2 separate regions of the Homo sapiens genome follow, and region 2 is linked to region 1. Evidence: fine-mapped expression QTL. A gene starts in region 1. The other region holds a variant in brackets. All regions are shown on one strand. Distances are between the middles of the regions. Region 1 holds the start of XG (Xg glycoprotein (Xg blood group)). Region 2 overlaps XG (Xg glycoprotein (Xg blood group)).

Evidence for each region.
Region 2: its variant is fine-mapped to the expression of XG in liver (GTEx, PIP above 0.99).

Annotation. Positions count from the first base shown.
Region 1 is chrX:2,746,853-2,756,282 of GRCh38, reverse strand. XG (Xg glycoprotein (Xg blood group)) reads right to left here and starts at 4,243. Exons shown (of 11, transcript NM_001141919.2): 1 at 3,948-4,243. The coding sequence starts at 4,008.
Region 2 is chrX:2,812,154-2,821,396 of GRCh38, reverse strand. XG (Xg glycoprotein (Xg blood group)) reads right to left here. Exons shown (of 11, transcript NM_001141919.2): 11 at 4,897-7,033. The coding sequence ends at 7,017. Among named protein-coding and RNA genes, the nearest start is that of GYG2, 12 kb to the left of the region's middle. The variant T/C (reference allele first, on the strand shown) is at 5,797.

The DNA.
Region 1 (9,430 bases):
GGTTCTCAGCTTCTTCTCAGCTGTTAGAAGACCTGATTTTGTCTCGTGCTCCTTCATGCCCCTCTGGATTGGACGGCAAATACTAATTAAATACAGTGGAAATGTAGGGCTGCTAAAATGTCAACCTCTATTAGGAATATGGCCGTCTTGCTATTATCTTCTTTTGTATTGATAATTTAGTAATCATCATAATGATTTACAGCATATTAACCATTAACAATATTCTGTCTTCTTTATTTTATTTTAAGTTCCGGGATACGTGTGCAGGACGTGCAGGTTTGTTACATAGGTAAACATGTGCCATGGTGGTTTGCTGCACCCATCAACCCGTCACAGAGGCATTAAGCCCCACATGCATTAGCTATTGATCCTGAACAATAATCTGTTTTCTTAAGTACTTCATAGCAATCATCGCACCAGCCTTGCAGAATGTTTTTGGGATCTTGGGAATGTGCCCCATTTCCAGCTGGTGATGGCTGGGGATGAAACAGGGTCGTCTGTGCATTTAACTAATTTTTACCCAGGACATACCCAGCTGCTGCATGTACATCATCTTATTTACACAGAAGGGCCCTGATCCAGACCTCACTTTCCTTCCAGTCCCTCCTGTAACCTCCCTAAGGGGCGCTACTTGTGTCAGAGGCACTGGAACCAGAGCGACTCCATCTTGAATAGGGGCTGGGCAATAGAAGGCTGAAACCTACTGGGCTGCATTCCCAGATGATTAAGGCATTCTGAGTCACAGGATGAGACTGAAGGTCTGCACAAGATACAGGTCATAAAGACCTAGCTGATAAAACAGGTGGTAGTAAAGAAGCCGGCCAGAACCCACCAAAACCCAGATGGTGATGAGAGTGGCCTCTGGTTGTCCTCAGTGTTACCCTCCCACCAGCACCATGACAATTACAAATACCACGGCAATGTCAGGAACTCTGCATGGTCTAAAAAGGGGAGGCATGAATAATCCAAGCCTTGCTTAGCATATCACTAAGAAATAACCATAAAAATGGGCAAGCAGTAGCTCTAAGAGCTGCTCTGCGGAATAGCCATTCTTTTATTCCTTTACTTTCCTAATAAACTTGTTTTCAGTTTACAGACTAGCCCTGAATTCTTTATGGAGCGAGATCCAAGAACCCCGTCTTGGCGTCTGGATCCGGACCCCTTTCCTGTAACACTTGGAGGAGGGATGATTCTGATTTTCAGAAGACAAGGCTTGGGATAGAGCGGGATGCTCACTGGAGTCTTCCCAGACAGAGCTACAGGACAGCTCAGATTCCGCTGCCGGCTGCCCCCGTCCAAATCCTCAGTGCCTCAGTTTACCCATATCTGTGACGGTTAATACTGAATGTCAACTTGATTGGATTGAAGGATACAAAGTATTGATCCTGGGTGTGTCTGTGAGGGTGTTGCCAAAGGAGATTAACATTTGAGTCAGTGGACTGGAAGGGGCGGACCCACCCTCAATTTGGGTGGGCACCATCTAATCAGCTGCCGCTGTGGCTAGAATATAAGCAGGCAGAAAAATGTGAAAAGAGACACTGGCCTAGTCTTCTGGCCTACATCTTTCTCCCATGGTGGATGCTGGAACATCAGACTCCAAGTTCTTCAGTTTTGGAACCTGGACTGGCTCTCCTTGCTCCTCAGCCTGCAGACGGCCTGTTGTGGGACCTTGTGATCATATGAGTTAATACTTAATAAACTCCTCTCTCTATATATATTTCTATTGCATTAGTTCTGTCCCTCTAGAGAACCCTGACTAATACACCATCTGTAAAATGACATCAGGCACGACACTCCCGTCATAGGGCTGAGGGACAATCAACTAAGTTAATCCATGCCTAGTGCATAGGAAGTGCTGCCGTCAGTCAAAGAATTTAGCGCAGGACAGGGTATGGTGGCTGATGCCTGTAATCTCAAGATTTGGGGAGGCCAAGGCAGGAGGATCGTTTGAGCTGAGATGTTCAAGTCCAGCCTGGACAACATAGTGAGATCCCGTCTCTACAAAAAGTTTTAAAAACTAGTCAGGCACAGCGGCAAATGCCTGTAGTCCCAGCTACTCTGGAGGCTGAGGTGGGAGGTTTGTTCGAACCCCTGGGGTGAAGACTGCAGTGAGCTATGATGGAACCACCGCACTCCAGTCTAGGTGACACAGTGGGCCCCTCCCTCAAAAAAATTAAAACACATTAAAAAAAAGAAAATATTTTATGTTGTAAGTGCATTTAATACAACTACCCTACCAAACGCCATAGCTTAGCCTTACCTGCCTTCAGAGTGCTCAGAACACTTTTCATCAGCCAACGGATGGACAAATCATCTAGCACACAGTCAACTTTATAATGAGGTGTTGCATACCTCACATAATTTATTGAACATTGTACTGAAAGTGAAAAACAGAATGGCTGTATGGGGCCGGGCATGGTGGCTCACATTTATAATCCCAGCACTTTGGGAGGCCGGTGGATCACCAGAGGTCAAGATTCAAGACCAGCCTGGCCAACATGGTGAAACCCAGTCTCTACTAAAAATAGAAAAATTAGCTGGGTGTGGTGGTGGGCACCTATAATCCCAGCTACTTGAGATGCTGAGGCAGGAGAATTGCTTGAACGTAGGAGGTGGAGGTTGCAGTGAGCTCAGATTGTGTCACTGCACTCCAGCCTGGGCAACAGAATGAAACGACACGACATCTCAAAAAAAAAAAAGAAAAGTTGTATGGGTACTCAAAGTACAGTTTTCGTTTGTACTGAATGCATACCAATTTTACACCGTTGTAAAGTTGAAAAATCTTAAATTGAACCATCATGTCAAACCATGGTAAGTTGGGAACTGTCTGTATCCGCACTTTGTAGAAGTTGATTTGCCCAAGGGGATATGGTTAACCTTTGGCTCTTACTGTGAATGATACAAACTCCTGGAAGTACTTTTCTGGGGAGGTGGGTTTACTGTTGAACATCTCCCTGTAAACAGAAGCTAATGAATGCATGGCCACATTGTCCACTTACTAGGTGAGATCTGAAGACAGCACAGAATAATAAAAAATTCTCACTGCAGATCCTAGACTATGTCCACCAGGATCTATCCATCCCGACACCGCCTCCGCCCATAAACAACCAACTCCAATCTTAATGACGTCCATGTCTTTAAATAGGATAAACAGGAAATGCTGCCACAGGGACATCTGAATGATGTGTTTTAACTCCTAACAGAAATACTTCTCTCTCTTAAGATGCGCCCAGGTGTTCCCTTCTCTGAAATCGCCACATGAAAATGACCAAAGAAACTTACTCAACCGTTGTTCAAATCCTGTACTTTATGAGTTCATTGGAGTTTCTTAAAGAGGTCCTCGTACGGAACTGAAAAATCTAATCTTGGATCTGGGACAGCCAGCCTGCAAGTTTATATCGAAGTTTTTGATGTGAACAATTCAGGTGGTTTTAATTTGCAAGAATGAATGACAGTGTTTAGGAAAAGATTTAAAAATCTGAATAAATGCAACCCTTCCGGCAAACGAATCTCTGGTAATCTGCCCCACGGGATGAAGTAGTTTCAACTCTACTTTTACTGTATGGAAATGGTCAGAACTAATTTTTAAAATCAGAAAGAAATGACTGACATTCCACACACACCCAGTCATGCTTGAATCATGGAGTTAAATAGGTCATTTTTTAAACGCTTGGGACACATGGATCAAAACAGGAAAATATGGCGAATATCTAGATGGTATCAGCTAACATCCTGCCCTTCTGGATCTAATTCCCAGATTCCAAATGGGAGCAGCCCGTCTTCTCCCTCCCCTCTCAGCCACCCATCGCTCTTAGTCTCCTTTCTAATCCCATTGGGCAAATTATCCCCATTCACTTCATAGCAACTCCTTTGGAAAGAGTTTCTTAAAGCAAGAATAGAAAAATCCATGCCCAGGCAGATCTCCCTCAAAGCAAAATGCCTCTTACCTCGGGCGTGCATTAGAAAACACAGGAACGCAAGACAGGGAAGTCCCCACCAGCTCTCCATGGTTTGCTTCAGGATGCAAGAACCTCAGTGGACTCCCCAGCCAAGCGGATTGTGAGACCCGGCCTCTCCACCCTCCTGTTGTTGACTTCTGGTCTCCCAGCTTGGAAGGAAGGGAGGCGATGTCTTCAAGTGGAAAATATGAGCGGAACTGCCAGAAACAAATGGGCTCCAAGCTCAGATCCCAAACTCCACAGCTGAAAACCTGTGGGACCAGTGTAGGCACACTCAGTCGTGTGTCGGAGCCAGCCTCCCCGGGCTGCCCCAACCAATCTGCAGCAGCACAGACGATGGGGAAACTGGGGTGGTTCCCAAGCACCAATGGGCATCTCAGGCTTCTGGAAGCCGGCACACTTGCTTGGCAACTCTGCTCGCTGCGGGTGTGGGAGCTGTAGCAAGTTCAAAGTCACCAACCCAGAAACCAGAGAAGACACTGGCCGCCTGTAATCTTCCTCCTGCAGGACATGATTGTACAGTGATACCCAGTGTGGGGTTAATGTACACATCAGTGCAAAGACCTCAGTTGAAGTCTTGGCTTTTATACCTAACAAACTCAGTGACTTCCAAGAGGCATTTTTTATCCTCAGCCTTCAGTTGTCTTTGTAGGTGGCAGAACTAATATTTCAGCAGAGACGGTTGTTCAGGAAAAGGAGATATGTGGCTTTTTGTGTCTTTCATTTAAATCTGAGACATTTTATGTAACTACCAAAATTTACATCTTCTGTTTGAAATCTCCTTGGAGAAGAAACATGACTGGATAGCTGAGTTCGATGATGACTCCTGCTTTCACAATGGTTTTAATTATATTCTTCCCTGCAGATCTGTGAGTGTGTCTAATTTATCCATATACAACTCGTGGGTTAACCCTTACACTCTACCTACCATGAAGCAGTAGGCAAGCACTTAAAAAGTTACCATTTGCAAACAGCTTTGAAGTCCTCTGGTAAATAGATTAACTGCAGGAGAAAGGGGAAAATCAGTCTTAGTTATGAGGGCAGCTTCTAAATTCCCAGAGAAGCAGGATTCATGGCAAACAGACCCAAAAGGAGAAATAAACCTTGGACTTTTCTCTCTGCAAATTTGAGCATCTGGAGTGTTAAGTCTGTTCATGTTGTTGACCTGGTGTTTGGGAGTTGTCTTCTATGAAATATCTTCCTTTTTTTTTTTTGAGACAGAGTCTCACTCTGTTGCCCAGGCTGGAGTGCAGTGGTGTGATCTCAACTCACTACAACCTCCGCCTCTCAGGTTCAAGTGATTCTCCTGCCTCAGCCACCCGAGTAGCTAGGATTACAGGCACCCGACACCACACCCGGCTAATTTCTGTATTTTTAGTAGATACAGGGTTTCACTGCATTGGCCAGGCTGGTCTTGAACTCTTGACCTCAAGTGATCCACCTGCCTCGGCTTCCCAAAGTGCTGGGATTACAGGTGTGAGCCATCGCGCCTGGACTGCAACATCTTTATAAAGGTAAGTTACTTGGATGGATTAAGTTCCTGTGCACACAGGTGTGTGTGTGTGTGCACGTGTCTGTCTGTGTGTGTGTGCGTGTGTGCGTGTGCATGTGTGCGTGTGCATGTGTGTTCATGTGTGTGTGTGTGTGCATATGGGGGAAATGCTCTAAGGCAGTTAGCTTGTGCAGTCCTAAGCTCTGAGTGGCAGAGTCCAGGAAGCAGTTGATGCATTTAGAAAGATATTTCCTTCAAAGTCCCCTGACCCTAAAGAGGACTGACACCGTGACATCTGCTACAAAGTGGATGGACGTCAAAAACTGGATGCTGAGTTAGAGAAAACAGACACAGAAGAACGCATTGTGTAGGATTCCATTTCTCTGAAATGTCCAGAACAGGCAAATCTGCAGAGACAGAAAGCACATTGCCGGTTGCCAGGGGCTGGAAAGACGTGGGAATGGATATATTATGAGTTGCATTTTTTCTCCCGCAAACTTCATATATTGAAGCCCAACCCTTCAGTACTTCAGAATGTGACTTTCTTTGGAGATAAGATCTTTGCAGATGTATTACTTTGGTGCAAAAGTAATTGCAGTTTTCACCATTAATTTTTTTTTTTTTTTTGAGACACAGGCTTGCTCTGTCACCCAGGCTGGAATGCAGTGGCGTGATGTCAGCTCACTGCAACTTCTGCCTCCTGAGCTCAAGTGATTCTTCTGCCTCAGCCTCCTGAGTAGCTGGAATTACAGGCATGCACCACCACACCTGGTTAATTTTTGCATTTTTAGTAGAGACGGGGTTTCACCATGTTGGCCAGGCTGGTCTCGAACTCCTGACCTTGTGATCCGCCCACCTCGGCCTCTCGAAGTGCTGAGATTACAGGCGTGAGGTAGCGTGCCCAGCTCCTCGCCATTACTTTTGAAGGTGAAAACTGCAATTACTTTTGCACCAACCTAATCATTAGTTAAGATGAGGTCATACTGCAATATGATTGGTATTTTAAAAGAAGAGAGAAATCTGGACACTGACATGCACACAGGGAGAAGGCCTTGGGAACATGAAGTGGGAGATTGGGGTGATGCACCTACAAGCCAAGGGATATTGGCAGCAAACCACTGGACGCAATGGGAGGGGCATGGAATCCATTCTACCTCACAGCATCAGAAGAAATCAGCCCTGCTGGCTGGGCCCGGTGGCTCACGTCTGTAATCCCAGCACTTTGGGTGGCTGAGGTGAGCGGATCACTGGAGATTAGTAGTTCGAGACCAGCCTGGCCAACATGGTGAAATCCCGTTTCTACTAAAAATACAAAAATTAACTAGGCACGATGGTGCGCGCCTGTAATCCCAGCTACTTGGGAAGCTGAGGCAGGAGAATTGCTTGAACCCGGGAGGCAGAGGTTGCAGTGAGCCAAGATTGTGCCACCGCACTACAGACTGGGCAACAGAAACAGAGTGAGACTCAGAAAGAGAGAGAGAGCGAGAGAGAGAGAAGAAAGAGAAAGAAGAAAGAAAGGAAGAAAGAAAGAAAGAAGAAGGAGGAGGAGGAAAGGAAGGAAGGAAGGAAGGAAGGAGGGAAGGAAGGAAGGAAGGGAGGGAGGGAGGGAGGGAAAGGGGAAAGGTAAGGAAAGGAAGAAAGAGAAAGGAAGGAAGGAGGGAAGGCAGGAAGGGAGGGAGGGAGGGAGGGAGGGAGGGAGGGAGGGAGGGAGGGAAGGAGGGACGGAGGGAGGAATCCACCCTGTTTGCTCCTTGATTTCAGACCTCTATGCTCCAGAACTGTGACAGCTTAACTGTCTGTTTTTTAAGCCCCCTACCTAGTTTGAAGCATGTTTTTATGACAGCCCCAGGAAGCCAATATAAAAAACAGCTGCTAATGGGATTTCTTTTGGGGGCAGTGAAAATATCTTGGAACTAGGTAGAAGTGGTGGCCACAAAACACTGTGAAAGCAGCAAGCAACCTGAATTGTTCACTTTAAAATGGTGAATTCTCCTGTCATCCCAGCACTTTGGGAGGCTGAGGCGGGTGGATCACCTAAGGTCAGGAGTTCAAGACCAGCCTGGCCAACATGATGCAACCCATCTCTACTAAAAATACAAAAATTAGCCAGATGTGGTGGTGACTGCCTGTAATCCCAACTACTTGGCAGGCTGAGGCACGAGAATTGCCTGAACCCGGTAAGCAGAGGTTGCAGTGAGATGAGATCACGCCAGCCTGGGTGACAGAGACTCCGGGTCAAAAAAAAAAAAAAGGTTAATTCTATGATTTGTGAATTTCACCTTAATAAAAAAAATGTTTCCCAAAAGGTAGTGAGGAGTTAGGTTAAATGGTTAAGTTCAGGAAATCCTCTCAGATGTAGTGAAGGTGCAAAATAATTGCTACGATTTCCAGCATGCCTAACGTGCCAGTGTTGTAAGTATTTTACATGCTTCTTGAGGCAAGAGTAGACAAGCTTTTCTGCAGAAGGTCAGATAGTAAAGGCATTTATCTTTGCAAACCATATGGATTCTGCTGCAATATGTAACCAATGTCTGTGCGCCAAGTGGACTTTATGAACATAAAAACTTGAGTGTCACATAATTTTCATGCATCACAAAATATTATTGTTCTTTGGAGTTTTGAAAATTATTCAGACATGTAAAAACCATTCTTGGCTGGGCACCGTGGCTCATGTCTGTAATCCCAGGACTTTGAGAGCCAGAGGCAGGCAGATCACTTGAGGCCAGGAGTTCGAGACCAACCTGGCCAACATGGTGAAACCCTGTCTCTACTGAAAATACAAAAAGTAGCCGGGCGTAGTGGTGCATGCCTGTAGTCCCAGCTGCTCAGGTGGCTGAGGCAGGAGAATCGCTTGAACCCAGGGGCGGAGGTTGCAGTGAGCCGAGATCATGCCACTGGACTCCAGCCTGGGCGACGGAGTAAGACGCCATCTCAAAACAACGATAACGACAATAATACAAAAAAATTCTTACCTCGAAAGCTGTACAAAAACACACCGTGGGCAGATTTGGCTCCCGGGTTCTAGTTTGCCGACATCAAAGCTGTGTGTTGCAGGAGTCCTGGGAAACCCAGTTTTATCACCTCTGCTTCACTAAAGTATGGTCAGGGCAGGCCGTGTGCCCAGCGGTAATACACGCAGGCTCCAGATCAGAGCACGTTAGGGGAAAAGCACTCTACTTCACCGCTCGAAGCCTCAGCTGATCAAATGCTGGGAGCTCACAGACATGGCAGAATTTACAAAGCCGACTTTAATTTTCACATCCTCGATAACCTTAAAAAGCGTGAATGCATCTCCTTTTCAATGTTCATGGGATGCTCCTGAAAATTCACAACTGCACTACAAAGAAAGCTTTAGCAAACTGTTTTTTTAAAGTAGAAACAAGACAGAAGACATTCTGTTGCTGTAAAATTGGAAATAAGAATATTCTAGGCCACGCATGATGGCTCACACCTGCGATCCCAGCACTTTAGGAGGCCGAGGCGGATGGATCACCTGAGGTCAGGAGTTTGAGACCAGCCTGGCCAACATGGTGAAACCACATTTCTACTACAAATACAAAAATTAGCCGGGTGTGGTGGCATGTGCCTGTAATCCCAGCTACTTGGGAGGCTGAGGCAGGAGAATCACTTGAACCGGAGAGGTGGAGGTTGTAGTGAGCTTAGATCAGGCCACCGCACTCCAGCCTGGGGGACAGAGTAAGACTCTGTCTCAAAAACAAAATAAAAAGTAATAAAAAATAAAAGAATAAAGATATCCTTATTCTGCGTCACACTAACTTCCTGACTTTGTGATTCACCCTGGCACACATACAGACATGGATACAACAGGTTTTTAAGATATAAAATCAAGAAAAAAATCAAATCTATTCCTTTCTTAGGAGCGTTGGTCAGGAATGGGCAGGAATTAGGTAGAAAGGTGTGTGCATGTTTCATTGCTTGTAGACACTGCCTGTGATGGTTCATACTGACTGTTAACCTG
Region 2 (9,243 bases), 65 kb before region 1:
TCTGAAATCCTATCACTGAATTTTTAAAGTCTACACATTTAAAACCCACAGGTTTATCTTAAGCTTCAGACAAACCTTTTATCCATTCATGATTCTGCCACTTCACACATGGGTCATTTGTAGAATATTGGTTCATTGAGTTATGGAGGTCTTCCAGATGTTTTATTTCATAATATGTATATTTTTTAAAAACACACACATTTGTTAATATCCCTATCCATCTCATCCCAAAAGTCTTTAGCTAGAATACCAAAAGAAAATATCTCCTCTTTAATATTATTAAAGTTGTGGCCTGAACGAGGGCTTCATTCATTCATTTTCCCGTGTGTTTAATAAGTCTTTAGGGCCAGGCGTGGTGGCTCAAGTCTGTAATCCCAGCAATTTGGGAGGCCAAGGTGGGAAAATCACTAGAGCCCAGGAGTTCGAGACCAGCCTGGGAAGCACAGTGAGACCCCGTCTCTACAAAAACAATAAATAAATTAGCCAGGCATGGTAGGACATGCCTGTTGTGCCAGCTACACAGGAAGCTGAGGTGACAAGATCGTTGGAGCCCAGGAGTTTGAGGCTGCAGTGAACCAGGATCACACTGCAGCGCTCCAGCCTGGGCGGCAGAGCAAGACATTGTCTCAATAAATAAATAAATAAGTCTTTAATGAGCATCTACTACATGCCAGTCATGTTTCTGGAAACTGGGGACAAATCCATGCCTTTGTAGCAGTTGCATTCTAGTGGGGATGGAGCCGGGAGAGAAACAATAAAAGGTGATACGTTATCATATGTTGGAAGTTGATAAGAGATAGACAGAAAAGATTAGAACAGAGGATGTGGGTGAGGAAGTGCTCGTAGTGGGTGGGGACCTGCGATTGAAATGATCTCACCTCCCTGCGGCCTCCCTTTGGTCTGCAGCCTCCCTTTGGTCTACAGCCAATGGTGGACAGTGTCAGATTTTGCCCCCAGCCTTCCCACCAGCTCTGCTATGGGATCAAACATTCTATGCTTGTTAGGTCCAAGCACTGTTTTCACTTTTGGTTGGGGAAAAATTGGCAGCTTCTCTTTCCGTATGTCATGTCTACATCCCAGCTATTCATAAACAAGCAGTCATGTTTCATGAATACCTGTCTAGCAAGGGGCAGATGAATAGGACGGGGAGCAGGGAGGAGACAGCTGTGAAGCAAAAACGTGACAATGGCTGGCAGGAACCCAGGGAATGCATTGCATTTATATTTGGAACTATGGGGGAAGATGCAGCTTAGATGGAGGCCATTCCAAGTCACCCAAGTGCTCAATGTTCAGAACCAGAATAGCACGTGGCGTGAAACTCTCTCATGGGCTGAGACTGGACAAGCTAGTTCCATTCTCTGACAAGTCTGGTCTTCCGGACTCGGCCCCTGGAAAGCTGCCTTTCTTCCTCATTACCCCTTCTCCTCTCCCCTTACCATGGGATCTTGTGAGCCTTTCTTCAACAGACACAGGCTCCTCCCTGCAGCTTTGTATGAAGTTCATAACTGGGCTCAGATCAAAGTTGTGGTGGAAGCCTTTAGAATTCTGAAGGAAGCAGAAAAGGCATTGAATGACACCCCCAAGACCAACTTTTATGTTTAATGAAAAAAATGTTGCAGCCAGTGGTAACATTTTTTTGAATGTACAATTTAGAAATGTCCACTGGGTGTCGCATGGCCCTGCTGGGAAACTAAATGCTACAAGATAGTGAAGCGTACACACTTTTTACCGTGATAAGCTAGTTTCATAGCTATGCACAAACTGACCATCGCTGAACTAATAACTGAGCACTATTTGAGAGACTATCTTTGTACACCTCTCAAATTCTGCAGTTACTGTTTTGACTTTTAAGTACCAGTCCCTGACGGGCACATGGTAGGGGTTATAATACACTATACCTCTCCAGTCATCCCTGGAACTCTAATTCTATCTTTATAAACAACTCATTATCACTGACATCCTTTTTTTTTGACAGGGTCTTGCTCTGTCACCTGGGCTTCAGTGCAATTGTGCAATCAGAGCTCACTGCTGCTTCAACCTCCCAGGCTCAAGCAATTCTCCTGTCTCAGCCTCCGAAGTAGCTAGGACCATAGGCATGTACTACCACGCCCAGCTAATTTTTTAATTTTTTTGTAGAGACAGAGTCTCGATATGTCGCCAAGCTTGGTCTCAAACTCCAAGGCTCAAGTGCTCAAGTGATCCACCCACCTCGACCTCCCAAAGTGCTGGGATTACAGGTATGAGCCACCACATCCAACCAACATCCATTTTTATGTGTACATGTGTAAAGTATGTAAATTATTTTAAAAGGCTGGGCGCAGTGGCTCACGCCTGTAATCCCAGCACTTTGGGAGGCTGAGGCGGGCAGATCACCTGAGGTCAGGAGTTCAAGACCAGCCTGGCCAACATGGCAAAACCCCGTCTCTACTAAAAATACAAAAATTAGCTGGGCATGATGGTGGGTGCCTGTAATCCCAGCTGCTCAGGAGGCTGAGGCAGGGAGAATCGCCTGAACCCGGGAGGCGGAGGTTGCAGTGAGCCGAGGTCGTGCCACTGCACTCCAGCCTGGGCGACAGAGTGAGCCTCCATCTCAAAAATAAATAAATAAGTAAATAAATTACTTTGAAAGCTTATTTTTCTACTAAAATAAAATGATTCAGCAAATAGTATTGTTATTATCTATTACTCCTACTGGCAGTAGGTCTCCCTAATTAGAACATTATTTATTAGCTTTCTAGATTGCTATATTTTGATTGATTGATTTATCATTCTCTGGGTGAAATAATAAATTATTCTCCATTTTCCAGATGTAAAAGGATTACTTCTAAAATCACATTAAATGGAGAAGAATTTAACTAAAGTAATCAATATTAAAAAGATTGTAGGCTTTTGCAATGTTCAAAATATCTATTTTTTTTCTTTTTTAGAGACAAGCTCTCACTCTGTTCCTCAGGCTGGAATGCAGTGGCACAATCATAACTCACTACAGCCTTGAACTCCTGGGCTCAAGTGATCTTCCTGCCTCAACCTCCTAAGTAGCTATAACTACAGGCACACACCACTGCATCCAGCTAATTTTTACAAAATTTTTGTACAGATGGGGTCTTGCTCTGTTGCCCAGGCTGGTCTCCAACCTCTGGCCTCAAGTGATCCCCCCATCTTGGCCTCCCAAAGTGCTGGGATTACAGACATGAGCCACTGCACCCAGCCTGAAAAATCTAATTTTTAAGAGATCTTTGGGGATATATGAATTTTAGTGTGGTCACCCCTTTGTAAAATTTTTAGTATTTTAATTATTAAATTTAGTGACAATTAATATCCAAACACTCCCTCTTTTTTATTTTGAATATTTTGTGAAATTGTTGTACAGTTTATTTTAAAAGAACTTTCATACTACAGACCTAAGAATAATATATTGAAAAAAATAAAATTTCTGAAGCTATAAGGACAACAGCTGCAAGGCCTCCTTAATACAATATATTGTTTTTATTTTACAGGAGATACACACACACGTATATAATATATGTATTTTTCCTTTTGCACGAAAATGTTGTGATTAAAGCTTGAACGTCATTAGAATCACAAGATAACACAAGTGTCCTCCTTAGCTAAACTGAGCCTATTTCCATTTGGATTTGTGCATCCCAATAATTTTGTTCTCTGCAGCCTCAAGGTCTCATTTGCATAGAAAGGTTAAGAAATGAAATAAAATCCATGGTCCTCACCACACAACATGACTTCTGCACAGAAAACATACAGTAGGAAAAGTCTGAACTCTTTAGCAAGTCCTCAAAGGCAAAAAGTGGCATCTGTGGAATCAAGAAGCAAGTATCACCTTGACTCAAATGCCTCATATAACTGCAGAATCCCTCACTGTATCCATGTGAAGGAAAATTGTCAACCCTGTGGTTTGGATCAATGAAGCCAAGCAAACAGGACAGCTGCCACTTTTGCATAGTACTCTTAGAAGATGTATTTTAGATCTGTCAGATGGCATTAAAAAATCTCCTCTAGGTCTCAGTCCGATGTCAGAATGATAAATTTCAGAAAAACCAAGCTGCCCACTTCTGACTGCTTTGAACTTCATAGTAGAAGATATCAGAATCTTGCCATCTGCTATTTCTACCAAAGCAGGGAAGCTTTCCAAAACTGGTGCTTCATCACAAATTTATGGGCGAAAAGAATCAAATTTATTTCCTTCCTTCCTTCCTTCCTTCCTTCCTTCCTTCCCTTCCTCCCTCCCTCCTTCTCTGTCTCTCCTTCCTTCCTTCCTTTCTTCCTTCCTTCCTCCCTCTCTCCCTCCCTCCCTTCCTTCCTTCCTTCTTTCTTTGAGAGTCTCACTCTGTTGCCCAAGCTGGAGTGCAGTGGTGCTATCGCAGCTCACTATGGTCTTGAATTTCTGTGTTCAAGTGATCCTCCCACGTAGCTGGGACTACAGGTGTGCACTACGACGCCCAGCTAATTTTTAAATCGTTACTAGAGATGGGGGTCTCACTATGTTGCCCAGCCTGGTCTTGAACTCCTAGGCTCAAGCAATCCCCTCACCTAGGCCTCCCAAAGTGCTGGGATTACAGGTGTGAGCCACTACGCCCAGCCTAACTTTTTGGAAAACTATACCCAAGCCACTAGTTTTTCAAGGTTAGTTATTACCTTCAAATGACGCTTAACTGACATTTCTGACCATCTAAATGAACTTAATTGAAAAAAAAAAAAAAATCAAGGGCTGTATGAATTGACTCTCCAAAAACTTAACTACTCATAGCATACTGGTTGACTGAAAGCCTTACTGGTAACAGTTGAACACGTATTTTGTATATGTATTACATACCATATTATTACAATAAAGTAAGCTAGAGGAAAGAAAATGTTATGAAGAAAATCATAAGGAAGATAAAATTAATGAATTTACTATTTATTAAGTGGAAGCGGATCACCATAAAGGTCTTCATCCTTATCATCTTCCCATTGAGTAGATGGAGGGTTGGTCCTGCTGTCTCAGTAATGGCAGAGCCAGAAGCAAACTCACATACAGGTGGACATGTGCAGTTCAGCCCTGTGTTGTTCAAGGGTCAGCTGTACAGTCAAGGTTATCCTTCTCTAAATTACATGGAGATGACGTTTTATCAAGGCTTTTCTCATCTGTTCAATTCTCACCTTCTCAGCATGAAAACAGAATGCCCAGCAGGTGGTCCTCATGACCCCTCAAAGAGAGGTTCCCCCAAGCAATCATGATTCAAATATTTTCATCTTAAGTAGCTTGAACGTTAGCCTTGTCACCCAGGTGAATTTAGTCTCATGATTAGGTAACTATGTATTTCATATGTTCATAGTCTATCTTGAGCTTTAAAAGAGATTTATGGCATCATATTCACAGCTACGAAGGTTCATAATTTTGGGGCCACTTCTACAGTCATTTCATACAATTTATTTGTGAAATATAGAAAAAAACTATTCAATAATCAAATCCAGTTATTTTTCTTTTACATTTATTTAAAATGATTAAAAATAGTTTATGACAGTTTTAGAAAATGGAATGGATTAAAGGCTAAAAATGTTTAGATTCCATTTAAGTAGGTGTGTGTGTGTGTGTGTGTGTAACTAAAAACACAGGTTTTTTCACAAGAATTTAATTAAGCTCATGCTGAAACTCTTATAGGGAAAATAGTAATTGAGCATCAGACATCACCACTCCTGAAAAAAACCTTCTACAAGAATTGAAAAGTGTTGCAGGACCTAATACTGAAATAGGAAATATGGACTATCTTCAAACTGCACAAATGATGCATGAATCCACAT[T/C]TGAGACCCGCAACTCCGAGGTACCTAATGTGAATGATTAAAGATATTTTACAAACCGGGGAGCCCTTTCAAGTGCTTTCCACTTTCAACCTTCTCTCTTTGAAGACCCCAATTCATAATGGTGAGCATAAAACATGCATACTGGGAATTTTTATGGGCCCCATATATACATTCCAGACTGTACATGAATGTCTTGATCTTTGGTTCTGATATTTATGGCAAAGTCTAAATGTTATATGAACATTAACCTTAGTTTACTCAAACTATACCAATATGCCCAAACCATCCTTTTTTCTCTCCCCACAAGTATTTCTAAAAGAGAAGCAAAAAGCTAGTATACTTCTTGGATGCCTAAGGATTTAAGACTTCCTACCCTGATGAATAGAAAAAGTATAAACCAAGGAATGCAATGTTGGTGCCTTAGGAACTAGCACTTACAGAGTATCAAAGACTAAAAATACTACAAAAAGGCTCAACGCCTGATAATCACTATTTCTGTCTCCTATGCGCCAAAACATATCACAACCATATGATTTCCTAGGAAAAAGCATCCCAAGATTTCCCCCAGATGGTTTTAACATCAGTCATTTTGCACTTAACATTTCAAAATGCAGCCTTATTTTCTTCAGGTAATAATAATTTTATGTGCAGATATCTCAAAGCTGAAAGGATGATCAAACCCTGCTTGTGGGTGTCAGAAATAATGCATCCCCACTTCATTCGCAATAATGAATGCTCAATGATTTTTTCATATCACTGAAGAATTTAGCACAGGTCCAGCATCTTTGGAACCTCAACAATATTCTTCATCTCCCAGAAGCTGATAACATCCCCTCCCCACCAAGATATTCTACCTCCCTACTGCTCACCGCTTTGTGCCATCAACATGGTTAAGCGTGTGTGTGTTATTGCACCATGAGGTAGCTGAAGATCTCACAACAGAGAGCCACAGTCTCTTTGTGCAAATGAATAGCCAAACCAACATTGCAAGCAATCCTTTTTTAGAACGCAGGGTCTAGCTGCCTAACTTATCTTTATAACCACATCACATTCAATGAGTTGGGAATGCTTAGTGAGGCAGCTCATGTACTTTACACAGAAGAAAACACACTTTAGGTCATCAAATTGTGTCAAGAATAAAAGGAAATCTCCACAACAGTGATAAACACGGTTCTTGTTTTAGTTGTTTTTCTCAAAGTAATCAGGGGATCTTAACATCTTCAGACATTTTCTGGTTCTGAAAGGAAGATTAGAAACAAATGTCATTGTGGGGGCAAAAAAAAAAGTCTTATTAAACAGAGAAAAAGAAAACCAAGATCCAATTCTATGCTGTTACAAGAGACTCTTGCTCTAGATTTAGGAGAAGGAAGATTAGAACAGAAAAAAATGAAGCAGAAATGAAGTTGCACATCTTAAATATATACAATGTTTGTCTATCATACTTTAATAAAGCTAGAAGAATGAAAAATCTATTTTAAAAAAAAGAAAACCAAGATCAGACTATGTGCTGTCTACATGACACCTGCTTTACATTCGGCAGAAGGAGATAGATTAGAACAAATAAATGATGCAGAAATGAAGTTGTACATCTTAAATATATACAATGTTTATTTGTCAACTATACCTCAATAAAGCAGGAAAAATTAAAAATAGAAAATATTTAAAAACTGTTAAAATCATATCTGGAAACAAATATTCGTTTTGAAAACATTGTTTTTGACATTTTGCCATTTGTTAAGGATTTTGATGATCTTAAATGAATTGAGTAACTTCCTTTTTGGTTAAAACTAATATTTGTAGGAACTTCTTTTTTCGAATATGGCCTTGTTGGTCTTTATAACTTCTGAAGTGATGTTGTCATTTGCTCCACTTTATAAAATAAAAGCAAAGTATGATTCTTAAAAGTCCACATCAAGTGACAGACATCTGCTTCTATCTGTGTAGCTCTGTTACTACAACTCTTTCTCTACAAAGTGTGCAAGCTTCAGTGTATGGCCTCAGCAGGTACACAGTTCCACAGGTTGTGCACTGCACCACATCACCATGGATATGGTTAGTATACCATGTACGTCATCCTTTAGGAGACAGAGAAAATTAATGACCTAACTAAGGAGAGGTGGACAGCTGGGTACCATTAGCAGCAGCCTGGAACTTTAGAGTCAAGTTCGCAGAGCTCTGAGCCCCATTTGATACCAAACCCATACGTATTTGCTGTCATGCACATATTTCCTAGATAGTATAAAGGCTTTACAGCCAGCGAGGTGATATAGGCCCAGGATCCACATAAATGTCACTGCTCACCCTTGAAGAGATCTCCCTAACATCAGCTCACTCTGTCTACATCCTCCTTTCTGATCTCAGGAACTTTAAGGGAGGGGAAGATAAACTTGGTGCTTGGGAATACCTGGTGAGGGTATCATCGAAGTACAATGGAGAAAGTAGACAAAAATACTTACCAGGCAGCCAAAAGGCATGAAAGAGCTTCAAGACATTATACCTCTTTAGCAAAAACGTGCTTCCTTCCACCTCAGATAAATGGGGCAGGCATCATCCACGTTTTTAAAACTACACCTATTTCAGAAACTCAACTGGCCCCCATTCCAATGATTTTCCTTCTAAAATATTGCACTAAAATATATTTGCCTTGATTATTGAGTTTGTGGGGGACCCCTGTACCCCGCCCTTACATTTTGTGCTTGTGGAGATGGGTGCCTCTCTCTGCTTACTCAGTTTCAGCCCTTGGTTAACAAAGGCTTACAAATCACTGCCACAAAAGCTACTGAAGTTAACACGTGGTGTTCGTTAATGATGGCTGCCATGTTGGGTGAAAGAGTGTTGTCACTGAACCCAAGAATCTGCTCTCAGGTTGCCAGGAAAATAAGGCAGTTTTTCAGAAACTCAGTTTCCTCCTAAAATTTCAGGACGGGGCGTAATGTAGACGGAGGCTCACCCCAAACGGAGGTTCATTAGCTAACGGTTGATACTGCCCATTCACCAGCAGAGGGAGCGCATGGGAAGGTTTTAGGATTTTTGAGGCCAAATGCAAATCCTAAAGCAAACACCGTAGGAATGGGCACCCCTTTCTGGTTTCCTTCGGGGACACAAAGAAGGTATGAGTTAGAGGGCCCTGGGCAAACTCCAGACAGATTCTGACGTGGGTGGCCTGAGGTTTAAACCAAGCCTCCAGAGACACCCAGTTAAAGATCTGAGTCACTCTTTAGGCTATAAAACAATCCCTGACTGTTGTTTCAGAGATTTCTTTAGGGCATCCTCTGCTCTCAAATCCCAAGTGATTCTTCAAACCCAGGAGTGTGGAGCCGGCATTGAACCAGGAAGCCACAGCAGATCTTTCCTCTCCCCTATGGTCTGAGCGCACCTTCGGAATTTCAGAGAGGCTTATAATTCAGTGTTTCGGTAGTTTTCTTTGCGGGTGGGGTTCTGGGCAAA